Linked DNA regions of Homo sapiens. The protein of the gene in region 1 interacts with the protein of each later gene in a biochemical or structural test. Each region holds a gene or a part of one and is shown in the gene's direction. Other genes may lie near its edges.

Evidence for each region.
Region 2: the proteins of RGS18 (region 1) and GNAQ form a complex in vitro, tested with the Homo sapiens proteins (one study listed by BioGRID).

What each region holds. Positions count from the first base shown.
Region 1 is NC_000001.11:192,174,903-192,182,576, forward strand, and holds part of RGS18 (regulator of G-protein signaling 18), read left to right. Parts: intron 1-6,389; coding exon 6,390-6,556; intron 6,557-7,674. UniProt on the Homo sapiens protein: Inhibits signal transduction by increasing the GTPase activity of G protein alpha subunits thereby driving them into their inactive GDP-bound form. Binds to G(i) alpha-1, G(i) alpha-2, G(i) alpha-3 and G(q) alpha.
Region 2 is NC_000009.12:77,720,518-77,728,191, reverse strand, and holds part of GNAQ (guanine nucleotide-binding protein G(q) subunit alpha), read left to right. Parts: intron 1-6,678; coding exon 6,679-6,869; 3' UTR 6,870-7,674.

The sequences.
Region 1 (7,674 bases):
TATATATGGGATTGGATCTAACATCTTACTATTTATTTTCTATTTGTTTCCTCATTTTGTTGTTGTTTTCTTTTCCTCCTTTCCTACCTTATTTAGATTAAGTAAATCTATCTTCTATACAACTGTCTGCTAGCATATCCATCCCTTCTGCAGTCTTTAATCTGTTGCCATGACCATCCAATATTTTTTTATTTTTAATATTTTACATTTTATTTGCTGAATTTCAACTTAATTACTTTTCATAGTTTAAATTTTGTCTTAGGTCTTTTTTAACCTTTGTGTTTTTCAAAAAATTTATATGAGCTTTTTTAAAGTTTTTGTCTGCTATTTCCAACATTTTAGATAACTTATCAGTTTTTATTGATATTTTATCAACAAACAAAATATTGATAATAAGTCATGAAAATTTCCTTATATCACTAATTTTTTTTTTGTATGTGAGCATGGAGGAAGACATAGGAGTCTAAATTATGTGGTCTTCCCTTATAGAGTATTGAATCATTTTTCTGGAAGTGAATTAAATCACTGTTGTATCCTCTTGATTTTTTTTCTGATCAGCTTGATCCTTTAAGGCTGGTATATCTCAGAATTGTCTTAGTATGAGGACAAGACCTTTCTTAGTAGTAGGACAAGACATAGTGTTTATACCAGAAACACGAACTTTCTTTGGTATCTCTTCTACGGCTGAGCCAGAAATCCAAAGTCATCCAAACCTATCAAAACTCTCCTATCTCCATTAACCTCAGTCCCATAGCATCTGTCTTCTTCTAGACTTCACAAAATTTGCCCTGCTCATGTGCAGCTTAGCCCTCAGTCAAGGCTCTGCAGGAAAACTGCATGGAGGCTTCTGGGTCCCCTTATAAAGCAGATTCACTCTGCACTGGTTACCAATTAAGCCCCCTATGTCTTGGGCTACAATTTTGATTACTTGCACAAATCCACTATGATAGAACACTGATACAACTAGTTAAGCAAAGCAACTTTAGTACTTGCAAATAGGCACCAAGGGATAATAGAAGCCTAGTATTCATAATGAGCTTCCCCCTCAACACTCAGGAAAGCTGCTAAGAGTGAATTAAATTTTGTCTATGATGTTCCAATTGCATGGCAGCCGAGGGATCCCAGAAAGCAGCCTGTCCTGGTTTTTATGTCCGAGGGAATACAGGTATCCCTGGGCTAAAGTGTCAAAGAAGATCCTATTTTGGGGTGGCAAAGGAACACAGCAAGGTTATTCTGGTCAATTTCTCTTATCTCAGGATGTTGCATTGTCAGCACATTGTACATTTATTTTTGAGAAACACAAGTGACAAAAAAGAGAGAACAAGTTAGTACAAGGTCACTCAAACTGTCCCACACCCTTCTGCATGTTTCCTTTTTTCAGTAGCCTGACCCACAAATTCCAAATACATCATAATGCCCAAACTCTTATCTCTGCCTCCTCAATTCAGCAAGACTTCTTACTATGGTTAGCCTCCATCTTCATGCGTACCAGTCTTAAAAATGCCCCCAGGTAGAAAGCCAGAGCAAACCTAGCACTCACTTCATGTGTTTTTCTTCTCATCTGTTGCCAGTTGTATTCTGCTTGGAAACTACTGCCTCAATATTTTTTCTAGTTTTATAGTTATTTGTGGTAGGAGGACAAGCCTGGTTCCCATTACTTTGTAATGACCCTCCTCTTCTTAATAGTTTAGTAGTAATATGTTCTTTTATTTAAGGTAGTGCTCTATAGATTAAATATCAAATCAAGGGCTTTGTCCACTTCTAAAATTGCTGGTCTCTGGTACCTAGACCAGTGTCTGGAACACAGCATGTGATCAATATTGTTTCAATGAATTAATGAGTTATTCAGTGGGGAGTTCAGGATGCAAACAAAAGTATTTAATAAAATAGTTGAACAAAGTAAGGAATACATTATATGTTTCAATAACTCATAGTGATATCCAACAGAGAGCAGTGTACCTCCAGAAATGTTTGTGAGCTTGTCCAAAGTCATATAGACTGGCATTTACCACAAACTCTAGCTTCACACGTTCTCAAAATTGATGCTGTCATCTTGTTAGCATGCCAGGAAGGACCCAACTCTCAGTAGAAGGCTCACATTGGCAAAACTCATGGGGTTAAATACCAAACTAATAATACAGATTCAGAAATAAAACTGTCACTGATAGCCATTTCTCTACCTTTTCATATGACCAAAGAAGCATCCAAAATGTATTAAAAATTTTGCTTGCCAAGCATGAAACTAGAATATTAATTAAATGTTTAATGTCATCAAGCTAAGAATTAACTTTTTAAATAAATTAGTATATTTTTAACTACATATTTTTGTCCATATTCACAATAGGACACAATTTTGTGGATTTTTTTTTTGCTTTTTTATGTTACCAGCTCTGATTGTCCATATCTCTTGTAAATATGATAGGTCTGATATTTCATTTAGTACACAAAATATTTCCTAGAAGTGTTTCATGTTTTTTTAATATAATTCTGTATTTTTATAATTAATTCAATTATTTGTTGATAATTTATTTTAGTATTATTAAATAATTATTGAGTTATTTCTCATGTTGGGTACTGGAAATTTGGTGACAAGTTAGACAAGGGTCTTCGTCTTATATATGTTACAGTGTAGCCTGGAAAACAAAAGTTAGCAGGCAACTGCAGTACAATATTTTAAGTTTACCCGGCACAGTAGAAGGCCATATATGAAGGACACCCAACTCGTTCTTTAGAGATTGGTGAAGTCTTTCCGGACAAGATGAAGTGTAATTTCAACCTCAATGAATATAGGCTGTATGGGTTAGATTAATAAAATTGCTTTATGGATTTAGAATAGGAAGGGAAAAGTATTCTCAACAGGAGCTAAAACTAAGAGATTCAGGAACATGGCACACGAATGGAACTATACGTGTTTCTCTGTGAGTGGAGCTTAAATCAGTGTAAAAACATAGTAGGAAGAGATGAACGCTATTGGGAAATTTTAAACGGTGAAGAATCATAATAAAATTTGTACTGCAGCAAGATATTACTGATGAGAATGTGGATAATAGTCTTGGAGGATGGAGAAAGAGACAAGGAAAACCTAAATTCAGGGTCACCAGTTAGGAGGTTTTTATAATAATTTGTGTGAGAGATAGTTCCGGTCTAAATAAAAGTAATTACAGATGGCACAAAAATAAAAAGACAGATGTAGGATATATGAAAGGGGAATTTTTTTTTAAGATTTGATTATCAGCTATGTGTGAGATAAGAGGAAAATCAAATATCCCTGAGAATAAATGCCAGGTTTCCCGTTTATATCCCTGAGTGGATAGCGTCATTAAATGGGAAATGTATGCAGGGAAGGTTTTGGGTAAAGATGATAAATGTACCATTCATATGACTAATTCAGTGGTCAATTCAATGATGTTTTTCACATGTTGGTTGGTATGAACTTGGAGCTCAGGAAAAAGGCTTGAGATAAGTTCTAAGAATCATCTGCATATTGATCGTATTTGGGTGTTGAAGTAATTTTTCAGGAAATGAGTTTAAGGGAAAGATGAAGAAGGATAAACTGAGAAGGATTTGGGGATGCAATAGTCAGAGGTGTAATAGGAAACTCTGGAGTTTAGCTGCCATTGAGGAGAATTACAGGCAATTCTCTACCGTGCCTGCTGTTGTGGAGAGATGAAATAACATATGGATGGAAAAAAAATGTTCACTAACTATAACATTAAGTCAATTTGGCAAAAATAATTTAAGTAAAGTGTTGAATGGAAACCACATTTTTGTGTGTTGGAAAGTAAATGAGATAGAGGGGATTAAGAGACTAAGTGTAGAAAACTTAATCAAAGATTTTATATCTGTAAGGAGAAAAGATATGTCAGTAGCTACAGGAATATTTGAAGTTATGATTTTAAAAATAATTTCTTGTAAGAAGATTAAAATATTTTAATGATATCAACATGTAAAGAAACTTTGTTTTTCAGAATTGTTTCTAATGCCTCATTTTGTCTACAGGTATTAACAATATGCATAAAGTACAGTTGAAGTTCAGAAAAAAGGAGTTCAGGAAAAATGTCAAGAGAGAAGATGGGCAAATAGGGAAGATAAAGGAAAGAAGAAGGAAAAGGAGAAAGCAAAGGACAGAATTTTAGCAAATAGCACATTTAATGGGGAAGAGAGGGAGTTAAACCTAAACAGACAACACACAAACAAACAATCACACAGTATGAACTAGGAGATATGCCATCCTACAATCCTATGTGGAAGAGTATTTGAAAAAGGAGGGGGTCAGTATTATCAGATGCTGCCAAGTGGGAAGTCCAGATGGGACTCATGATATTTCCTTATGCAATAACTTACATAAGGAGAGCAGAAAGAGAAATGGGCTATAACTAGAGAGTGAGAGTGAATCTAAAGAAAGATTGCTAAAACTCATTTAAATCCAACTCAAATGTGATTTATTCTGAGAAAGTTTATCTGAAAAATCCATTAGGAACATATTTCCCTTCCCTCAACATTTCTATAGTGCAACTACCATACACCCAAGCAATTTCACTCCTTGGAATTTATTCCAGATAAATAAAGACTTGTGAACATTTTATAAAACTATACACAAATGTTTATAGCAGATTTATTTGTAATAACTGAAAAAAAAAGAAATAACCCATGTTTCCTTCAATGGCAGAATGGTTAAACAAATGATAGTATATTCATATCATGGAATATAATACAGCAACAAAGAGAAACAAACCATTGATACATTCATCAACCTGAATAAATCTCCAGAGAATCAGGCTGTGTGGAAAATAGAAACATCTAAAACAACATATACTACATGATTTAATTTATATAACATTCTTGAATTGACAAAATTATAGCAATGGAGACCAGATTAGTGGTTCCCTGGAGTTAAAAAAAATTACATGTGGGGAGATGTAAATGTGGCTGTAAAAGGGCAACATGTGTTACACTTGTAACTTTCTGTATCTTGATTATATTAATTAATGTCACTATCCTAGCTGTGATATTTCACTGTAGTTTTCCAAGTTGTTACACTGGCGAAAACTGGATAAAGAGTACACGGGGTCTCTCCTAGGAACTTCCTACGAGTTCATGTAAATCTATAATTTTCTCAAAATAAAAAAGTTTAACTTTTACAAGGCTTAAAAATAAGTAGAGTTAAAAAAGATAGTTGAAAGAGCGTTTTTGAAGTCACATTGTCTAGTTTTGAAGTCACATTGTCTTAAGGTTGAATCCAAAGTCTGCCACTTTTTTAGTTATGTAAATGTCATCTTAGTGAGCCTTAAATAAAAATTATCAAGATCACCATCATCATCACAACCACCATTACTAAAACCCTTATGGAGTTTTTAATATGTCCCAGTTACTGTTCCAAACACTTGGTGTATTTTAACACATTTAATTCTCTCAACAGCCCTACCAGGTAGGGATCATTATTATCTTAATTTTAAATATTGAAAAACTAAGACACAGAAAGAAAAGGTAATATGCTCAGGGCCACATAGTAACTAAATGAACACTAATTTGAGCCCAGACAGTCTTCCACAAGACTTAATACCTGCCCCTAACATTTATGGGGCAAGACAAAAAGTGAAAAAGAGGTCCCATGCTGTATGTCTAAATGCTTAGGAGCTATAGAAACTAATAACTTTAAAATATATATGCTAGCCTTCTGCTTTGACAAATATACTTTGTAAGCCACTTGGAAGATTATGTTTGAATTTAAAATTTTCAGACACTTAACGTTTCCACTCTATAAACATGACCTACCACCTTTTTCTCTTCCCCCATGGTTTGGTTTCACACTGTGAGCAGCTCTTTGCACATTTGAGTACACACTCCAGCCTGCAAATTGAAGCCTTGTTCATACTCGGGCCTATGGGTATAAATACCAGTGAGTCAGTGTGTTTTTGGTAGATGGACTTGGAGAAAAGGCTGTGTAAATGCTGGAAGCATAGAGCTTTTAGTAAGGGAACCTCAAGATCCTGAATACCAAAGGCATGGTGTAGAAGTAGGATCCGTTCCAACTGTAATGGCTTCTTGACTCTGTGGAATCACCCCTCACACTCTGCGAGGGGAACGGATAAAAGAGACATAAAGTGAGGTCCACCGTAGGGGGTCCCTCTTACTCTTAGGCCTAAAGTCAAACTTAAGCCTGAGTGAGATACTGGCCTTATTTCAGTGGGAATAATACTTTCCTTTTATAGTTGTGAAAACGACATGAGGGTCTCTCAGGTATATTGTGCAAGATGTGTGCTGCGGTGCTGCATTAGAGGGAAGATGTAGGTTTTCTGTTAATATTTGCAATTATGTTTTATTATCAATCAGTAAATGTTTCCAACATTAATACCATTTTATAGTTATATTATTTATTTTCTTGATAGATGGACTAGAGGCTTTTACCAGATTTCTTAAAACTGAATTCAGTGAAGAAAATATTGAATTTTGGATAGCCTGTGAAGATTTCAAGAAAAGCAAGGGACCTCAACAAATTCACCTTAAAGCAAAAGCAATATATGAGAAATTTATACAGACTGATGCCCCAAAAGAGGTACAGTAAAGATAACTGTAAAAATGCATAATTGCTTTCAAAATTTTTTAATAATTTTATTTTTAAATTGTGAATTATATTTTTCCAACTTATTTTTATTAATTTCATTTATAATTGACATGTAATAATTACACATGTTAATGACATACAGTGTGATGTTTTAATATATGTATGCATTGTATAATGATAAAATCAGAGTTAGCATATTCATCAAATTAAACATTTATCATTTCTTTGTGGTGATAATATTCAATATGTTCTTTTCTAGCAATCTTGAAATATACCATGTATTATTATTCACTATAATCACCTATTAGGTAATATAACACCAGAACTTATTCTTCCTATCTATCTCTGTACCTGTTGATCCATCCTTTCTCCATCCTCCCATCCTTCCTACCTTACCTAGCCCTTGGTAACCACTATTCTGCTCTCTACTTCTATGTGAGCAACTTTATTAGATTCCACATACAAGTCAGATCATGTAGTATTTATTTTTGTGTGCCTGGCTTATTTCACTTAACATAATGTCCTCCAGGTTCATTCACATTGCCACAGATGACTGAGTTTCTTTGTTTTTTAATAACTCAATAGTGTTCCATATGTACCACATTTTCTTTATACATTCATCCTTTGATGGACATTTAGGATGAGTCCATCTCTTGGATACTGTGAATAATGCTGCAATAAACATGGGAGTGTAGATATCTCTTTAACATGCTGATTTCAATTCCTTTAGATATATACCTAGACGTAGAATGGCTGGATCGTATGATAGTTTTATTTTTAATTTTTGAGGAACCCTTATACTATTTTCTATAATGGCTGCACTACCTTACATGCCCACCAACAATGCATGAGTTTCCCTTTCTCCACATCCTCACCAACATTTGTTATTTTTTGTCTTTTTCATTAAAAGCCATTCTAACCGAAGTGAGTTGGTATCTCATTATGGTTTCTACGTGCATATCCCTGATGGGTAATGATGTTGAACATTTTGTCCAAAATGGCACTTTATGTCTTTTTTTGAGAAATGTCTATTCAGAGCTAAATTTTTTAGATAATCTGTCTTTATCAAATTTGTACCCTCATACATTCTACCAGAATGTTCATGATGT
Region 2 (7,674 bases), on another chromosome or scaffold:
GAAACCCCGTTTCTACTAAAAATATAAAAATTAGCTGGGCGTGGTGGCAGGCACCTGTAGTCCCAGCTTCTCGGGAGGCTGAGGCAGGAGAATTGCTTGAACCCGGGAGGCGGAGGTTGCAGTGAGCCAAGATCGCGCCACTGCACTCCAGCCTGGCAACAGAGCAAGACTCTGTCTAAAAAAAAAAGAAAAGAAACTCATCTGCTTTGAAATAGCAGATCAGAAAAAGGAACAATCCAGTAGTTTTGACCAATTGTGTATTAACTCTTATAGTCCCCTCTGTGTCTCCCTTTCATTTGGTTACCGTCCACCTCTGCCTCTCCTCTCTCTGGGGAGGAACACAATTTTGAAGTTAAGAGCCCACCACTGAAATCAGTCTATCAAGGTTGAGATCCCAGTTCTGACACTTCCTATTTGTAGAACTACCATCAAGTCACTTGATTTTTCTGGGCCTTACGACCAAACTCATAGGATTGTTTTGTGCACTGTAGTATATAACATATGTGTACGTTTAGCATGATGCCTGACACGTAGGACACTTATGAATACTCAGGAAATACTTCCTTTTTTGAAACTTCATAGCCCAATGAAGTCCCACCACCATTACTAATAGTAACCCAGTGTTAAGCTCTTTGTGCAGCACTTAGAATCTATAGCATCCACTTCACTACTCCTATGGCTCTGCATTATTTGCTTTGTTCTTAGAAAAGGATCTTACCCTCCCCAACTAGACTGTGAAATCCTGGACAACTAGACACCCAACCCATTCTGAGAAACACTTGAACACTTGGTGATTGGTAACAAAATGCATCCACATGTAGCCACTATGTAAAACAAGTGAGAGTCACGACTGCTGCCCTATAAGAGTCTATGTGGCCAGGTGTGGTGATTCACACCTGTAATCCCAGCACTTTGGGAGACTGAGGTGAGAGGATCACTTGAGCACAGGAGTTCAAGCCCAGCCTGGGCAATGTAACGAGACCTCTATCTATAAAAAATGAGGCAGGAGTTGGCAAGAGGTCAAGACTGCAATGAGCCATGATCCTGCCACTATACTCCTGCCTGGGTGATGGGAGACCCTGTCTCAAAAAAAAAAAAAAAAAAGTTTATTTATTTGGCAAGATAATCACATCTCTCCCTTATGGCCCACCACCTGGTTTTATGAATAAAGTTTTATTGAGACATAGCCACACCCATTCATTATACACTGTCTATGGCTGCTTTCACACCATAACAGCAGAATTGGATAATTGTGACAGAGATAGAATTGTTTGCAAAGCCTCAATTACTCTGTGGCCCTTTACAGAGAAAGTTTGCCAAGCCGTGGTCTAGATAGTTAAGAGCACAAGCTCTGAAAAGTTCCACTTTGCCACTCACTGTCTGTGTTGCCTCAGACAAATTTATTTAGCTACTCAGTTTATCCCTGGGCAAGAAAGAATTGAATGGAATCATACATATATCACATAGCAGAAACCCAAAAGTATCTACCATAGAGGTGATATAACAACAAGAGAAGAGACTATTTTTAAAATTACATTGTCAACATATGATATCCAGGATGGATATCATTCCACAGTGTTTTTGTACTTACTAAAAGCTTCCTCAGAAAAGTAATTACTTTAAAAACCAAGATTAAATTTAGCTTCATAGCTTTCTATGATGATACAAACACATCAGGGATGGAGGTTTAGTCATCTTTTCATCCCACATGGAATGTGGTACAGTCCTGGCTCATGAAAGGGAAATGTTACATGTTAAATGAATTGAAGTTCCCTTCTCAAATACATGTAAGATCCTGAAGGTTGGTGAATTGAAAATATAAACATTTGTGGATGTCACCAGATGTTAGAAATGGTACCTTTTGTTAGCATTGTGTTCATATCCTCTCTTCAAGTACATTTTCCTTTGTGCTTTGCTGTTCTTTGAAAAACACTTTCTCAGTCTAAACAGTGTTTTCTCTTTCACTCCTTTTAATTTGCACTAGCCCGGAAACAAATCATCAATGCCTGAGACTGCACTTCTCAGTGTTGCTCAGAAAACTATGGAAGGAAGTGACTGTGTGGGTAGTTAACTTGCTTTCCCACCTCAAGCTTCAAACACATCTACCTGAATACAGTAGGCATGAAACATCTGGCTTAGATCTAAACACGCTTGCCTGCCACACACACACACACACTCGAGGTTCTTCTTAATTTTTCTTGGAACTTGGTAAGAATCAGCGTGTGAGAAATTGCCACACCATACACAACACCCCATCTTGTGGGCTGGCACGTTTTCATGATGTGCTTGCATAAGGGAGGATGCAGAACAGATAGAGCATGGTGCCCACGGAGGTGAACCCTTCTGAGGGGTTCATTCAAACTTCTCAGATGCAGCATACCTAGCCACACTTCACAGTTGCTGATTTTTCCGCAATAAAAGACTTAGTTTGTGATCAGTGCTTGCAGTGCTGTTTTTTGATCTCTGCACCATCTTCCTAATCTCTTCACGTACCTCCTTTCTCCAATAATTTCCCCAGATTCCCCACCACTACAAGCATTTTCCTTCCAGCATGTGCCCATTGTGAATATTCTGAAATCTGAAGACTTTTTTTTTTTTTTTTTTTTTTTTTTACTGTTACCTTACCCCAGTATACATATAATGCACAGAGGAAACTTGGCCACAGAAAAAGAAAAAAGACATTGATTTTGTTATTACAAAGCCAGCGCAGCAGTCATTACGTGAAACTCCAAGCCCTTGTAAGATGAGCAAACACTGAAAAAATTGAGGCCCACTCTGCAGTGATGTTTTTGTAATAAGCATGTTTATAGTATTATAAATTTCACACTTCCACATTTCTATACTTACAAGGTCTTAATCATAATGAATGCCATTTCTGTATTTCTCTTCAAGAAAGGAAATTACCCTTTCCACATGGACTTGAATTGCAAGATTGTTCATAGAGACTGTGGAATTCTGCTCCTGCTGTGATGGCTGTAATGAGTTCTTTGTAGTGTATGTTTATTCAGATAACAATTTATGCTTAAAAACATAACACTTTTCAAGTACACTTCAGTGAACTTGGATCTAGTTCTTATATTCTGTAGGGTAAATAAAAAAGAAAAAAAAAAGGTATAGTCCCTTCCTTCCCAAATAGAGTAAGTACAAAATCATACAGAAGTTCATTCAGAAGCCAGAAATATAATGTTCTTTTTATGAAATGAGAGACTTCTCCAGCTCTGGTAATCTGTTACTTTCTGGTTTTGAATAGTTTTTATTACTTCTCTGGAGTTAATAGTACATTGAAAAAGATGGAACATTAATTATATATATATTTGCTTGTATATATACTTTACATATTGTTTTTAATTGTACTTTTTATCTATTAAATATGATGCCAGCCCTCTTAGTCATTAAAAAAATTGAATTCTGGGCACCTACATCAAAAATTCAACATTACTTTTTTAAATTGTACAAATGAGGATAGTCTATTTGTTTTTATAATTCTTTCCTCCCATCTTCTGGCATTATCAGATATAAGTTTATTGGAGTAATCTCCAATTTATAAAAAGGTTGGTTTGAGAATAATTCAAGTCAGCTGTCTGAAGCTCAGGGTGCATTTTGTTAGAAATGGTGGTCAAGCCCTCAATAGAGTTCTGCAAGATCTCTTTATCCCTACTAGTAGGTAACAAGAATATTGATGATAGAAAAAAACCTGCTGGGTGTGGTGGCTCACGCCTGTAATCTCAGCACTTTGGGAGGCCAAGGTGGGCGGATCCCTTGAGGCCAGGAGTTGAAGACCAGCCTGGTCAACATGGCAAAACCCTGTCTCTTCTCTTCTAAAAATACAAAAATTAGCTGGGCATGGTGGTGCACGCCTGTAGTCCCAGCTACCCACGAGGCTGAGGCAGGAGATTTCGCTTGAACCCAGGAGGTGGAGGTTGCAGTGAGCCAAGATCATGGCACTGCACTCCAGCCTGGGCAACACAGTGAAACTCTGTCTCAAGGAAAAAAAAAAGTTTCTTATTGCTTGGTATAGAACTAACTTGAAAAAATAGGAGGAAATGCATATATAAAGCAACACAAAGACAGATATATGATACGTATCCAATACTTGAAAGGTGATGGTGTTTTGATGTTATTTACAGTAAGTTTTAAGTTAATATATCTATCGGTACCTATTAAATACACTTTTAAAACAGCTTTATTGAGATTATTTATATACCATGTAATTCACTTATTTAAAGTGTACAATTCAGTGGGTTTTGATATAGTACTTTTTTTAATTATAAAATTTGCCATTTTAACATTTTTAAGTGCACAATTCATAAAAGGCATTAATTACACTCACAATACTGTGCAGCCATCACCAGTATTTTCAAAATATTTTCACCACCCCAATTAAGCAGCAACACCCCATTTCCTTCCTCCCCCTAACCCTTGGAAACCTCTAATCTACTTTCTGTCTTTATGAGTTTACCAATTCTAAGTACGTCATATGTGTGCAAGCATACAATATTTGTTATTTTATGTTGGGTTTATTTATTATAATGTTCTCACAGTTCATGCATATTACAGCATCTGTCAGAGCTTTACTCTTTTTTATGGCTGAATAATATTCTTTTTGTTTCTGATATTCTGATATTCTGTTTGGTTTGGTTTTGTTTCTCCATGTATCTGTTGATGGACACTTGGATTGTTTTCGCCTTTTAGCTGTTGTTAACAATGCTGCTATTAAAATTGATGTACATTGCTTCTTGCCCTTTTGACTAAGATCAAGTGTCTATCAGAGCCCCTGCTCTCAATTCCTTTAGATATATACATTGGAGTAGACTAGCAGGGTCGGTCATATGGTTATTCTATGTTTAGCTTTTTGAGGAACCACCAAACTGTTTTCACAGCAGCTGCACCTTTGTACATTCCCAACAGTGCACAAGAGTACAAATCTCTCCATATTTTCCCAAACCCTTGTTAATTTTATAGCCATGCTAGTAGATGTGGAGAGGTCTGTCACTGTGGTTTTGATATGCATTTTTCTAAATGATTACCATTATTGAGCATCTTTTCCTGTGCTTATTGACCATTTGTATATCTTCTTTAGAAAAATGTCTGTTCAAGTCTTTTGCCTATTTTTTAATTGGGTTTTTTGTTATTGAATTGTAGGAGCTCTTTATATATTCTGGACACTAAACGCCTATCAGATGACATGATTTGTAAATATTTTCTCCCATTCTATAGATTGGCTTTTCACTTTCTTAATAATGGCCTTGGCCAGGTGTGGTAGCTCATGCTTATAATCCCAGCACTTTGGGAGGCTGAAGTGGGAGGACTGCTTGAGGCCAGAAGTTCAAGACAACATAGTGATACCCCCATCTTTACAAAAAGTTTAAAAATTAGCCAGGCTTGGTGGCACCTATAGTTTCAGCTATTCAGGAGGCTGAGGCAAGAGGATCACTTGAACCCAGAAGGTTGAGGCTGCAGTGAGCCATGATCATTCCACTACACTGTAGCCTGGGTAGCAGAGCAAGACCCTGTCTCAAAAAAAAAAAAAAAAAAAAAGTCCTTAGATACATAAAGTTTTTAATTTTGATGAAGTCCAATTTATTTTTTCTTTTGTGAAAAATATGACCTGTGCTGTGGTGTCATATCTAAGAATCCATTGCAAAATTACATTTTTAGTTTATCTTGCTAGATATGTCACAATCCTTTTTCAAAGCATCTAGGAGAATTCTTGGTACATAAGAGACTCCTTCTTAAATCAATGTAAGAAAATATAGGTTGGGCACAGTGGCTCACACCTGTAATCCCAGCACTTTGGGAGGCCAAGGCGGGTGGATCACCTGAGATTAGGAGTTTGAGAACAGCCTGGCCAACATGGCAAAACCTTGTCTCTACTAAAAATATAAAAATTAGCCAAGCATGATGGCAGGCACCAGTAATCCCAGCTGCTCAGGAGGCTGAGGCAAGAGAATCGCTTGAACCTGGGAGGCAGAGGTTGCAGTGAGCTGAGATCTTATCACTGCACTCTTACCTGGGCAACAGAATGAGACTCCATCTCAAAAAAAAAAAAAGAAAAGAAAATATAAACCAATTGTTTTATCATCACACATGAACTGAATGCTACACAAATGTAGTGTGCTCAGAAATACCAGAAATCTATGGAAGTGAGACTGTTACAGAGGCCCATTGTAGATAGACCTGACCTTACAAACAGGTGTTCTAAGAGAGATGTCAGTCTGGAAGATGTAAAATGATCCATAATATTGGGTCGTTTGGAGGACAGATTGACAGGAGAGCCCGAGGCAGCTGTATCTTTGTGCACACTTATTATATAGCTGAAACAAGCATACTTAACTCAGTTGAACAGAAGTAAGCTATCACTCCCCTGATGAAGAGCCTACAGTGGCTCCCAATCACTCAGGGAATCAGAGTGAAGGCCAAGCTAAGAAATAAACTTAGCCTTGGCTTTCAAGTCATCTGTCTGCTTTCACCTATCCACATTTTGTGAATGGGTGGGTGCCTGGGTGGGTGGATGGATGGTCAGACATAGCAGTGTTAGGGAAAATGATTATAACAGATCAAATCTGCAGTGCAGATGTAGGCTTCATGAGCAATGACACAGTATTTATTGAACCAATGATGATTGAATACATTAGCAGATTAGGTAACAAAGTGTCCCTCTTGTCTCTTGGCCGAAAGGACCCCAGAGAGATGCCCAGGCAGCCCGAGAATTCATTCTGAAGATGTTCGTGGACCTGAACCCAGACAGTGACAAAATTATCTACTCCCACTTCACGTGCGCCACAGACACCGAGAATATCCGCTTTGTCTTTGCTGCCGTCAAGGACACCATCCTCCAGTTGAACCTGAAGGAGTACAATCTGGTCTAATTGTGCCTCCTAGACACCCGCCCTGCCCTTCCCTGGTGGGCTATTGAAGATACACAAGAGGGACTGTATTTCTGTGGAAAACAATTTGCATAATACTAATTTATTGCCGTCCTGGACTCTGTGTGAGCGTGTCCACAGAGTTTGTAGTAAATATTATGATTTTATTTAAACTATTCAGAGGAAAAACAGAGGATGCTGAAGTACAGTCCCAGCACATTTCCTCTCTATCTTTTTTTTAGGCAAAACCTTGTGACTCAGTGTATTTTAAATTCTCAGTCATGCACTCACAAAGATAAGACTTGTTTCTTTCTGTCTCTCTCTCTTTTTCTTTTCTATGGAGCAAAACAAAGCTGATTTCCCTTTTTTCTTCCCCCGCTAATTCATACCTCCCTCCTGATGTTTTTCCCAGGTTACAATGGCCTTTATCCTAGTTCCATTCTTGGTCAAGTTTTTCTCTCAAATGATACAGTCAGGACACATCGTTCGATTTAAGCCATCATCAGCTTAATTTAAGTTTGTAGTTTTTGCTGAAGGATTATATGTATTAATACTTACGGTTTTAAATGTGTTGCTTTGGATACACACATAGTTTCTTTTTTAATAGAATATACTGTCTTGTCTCACTTTGGACTGGGACAGTGGATGCCCATCTAAAAGTTAAGTGTCATTTCTTTTAGATGTTTACCTTCAGCCATAGCTTGATTGCTCAGAGAAATATGCAGAAGGCAGGATCAAAGACACACAGGAGTCCTTTCTTTTGAAATGCCACGTGCCATTGTCTTTCCTCCCTTCTTTGCTTCTTTTT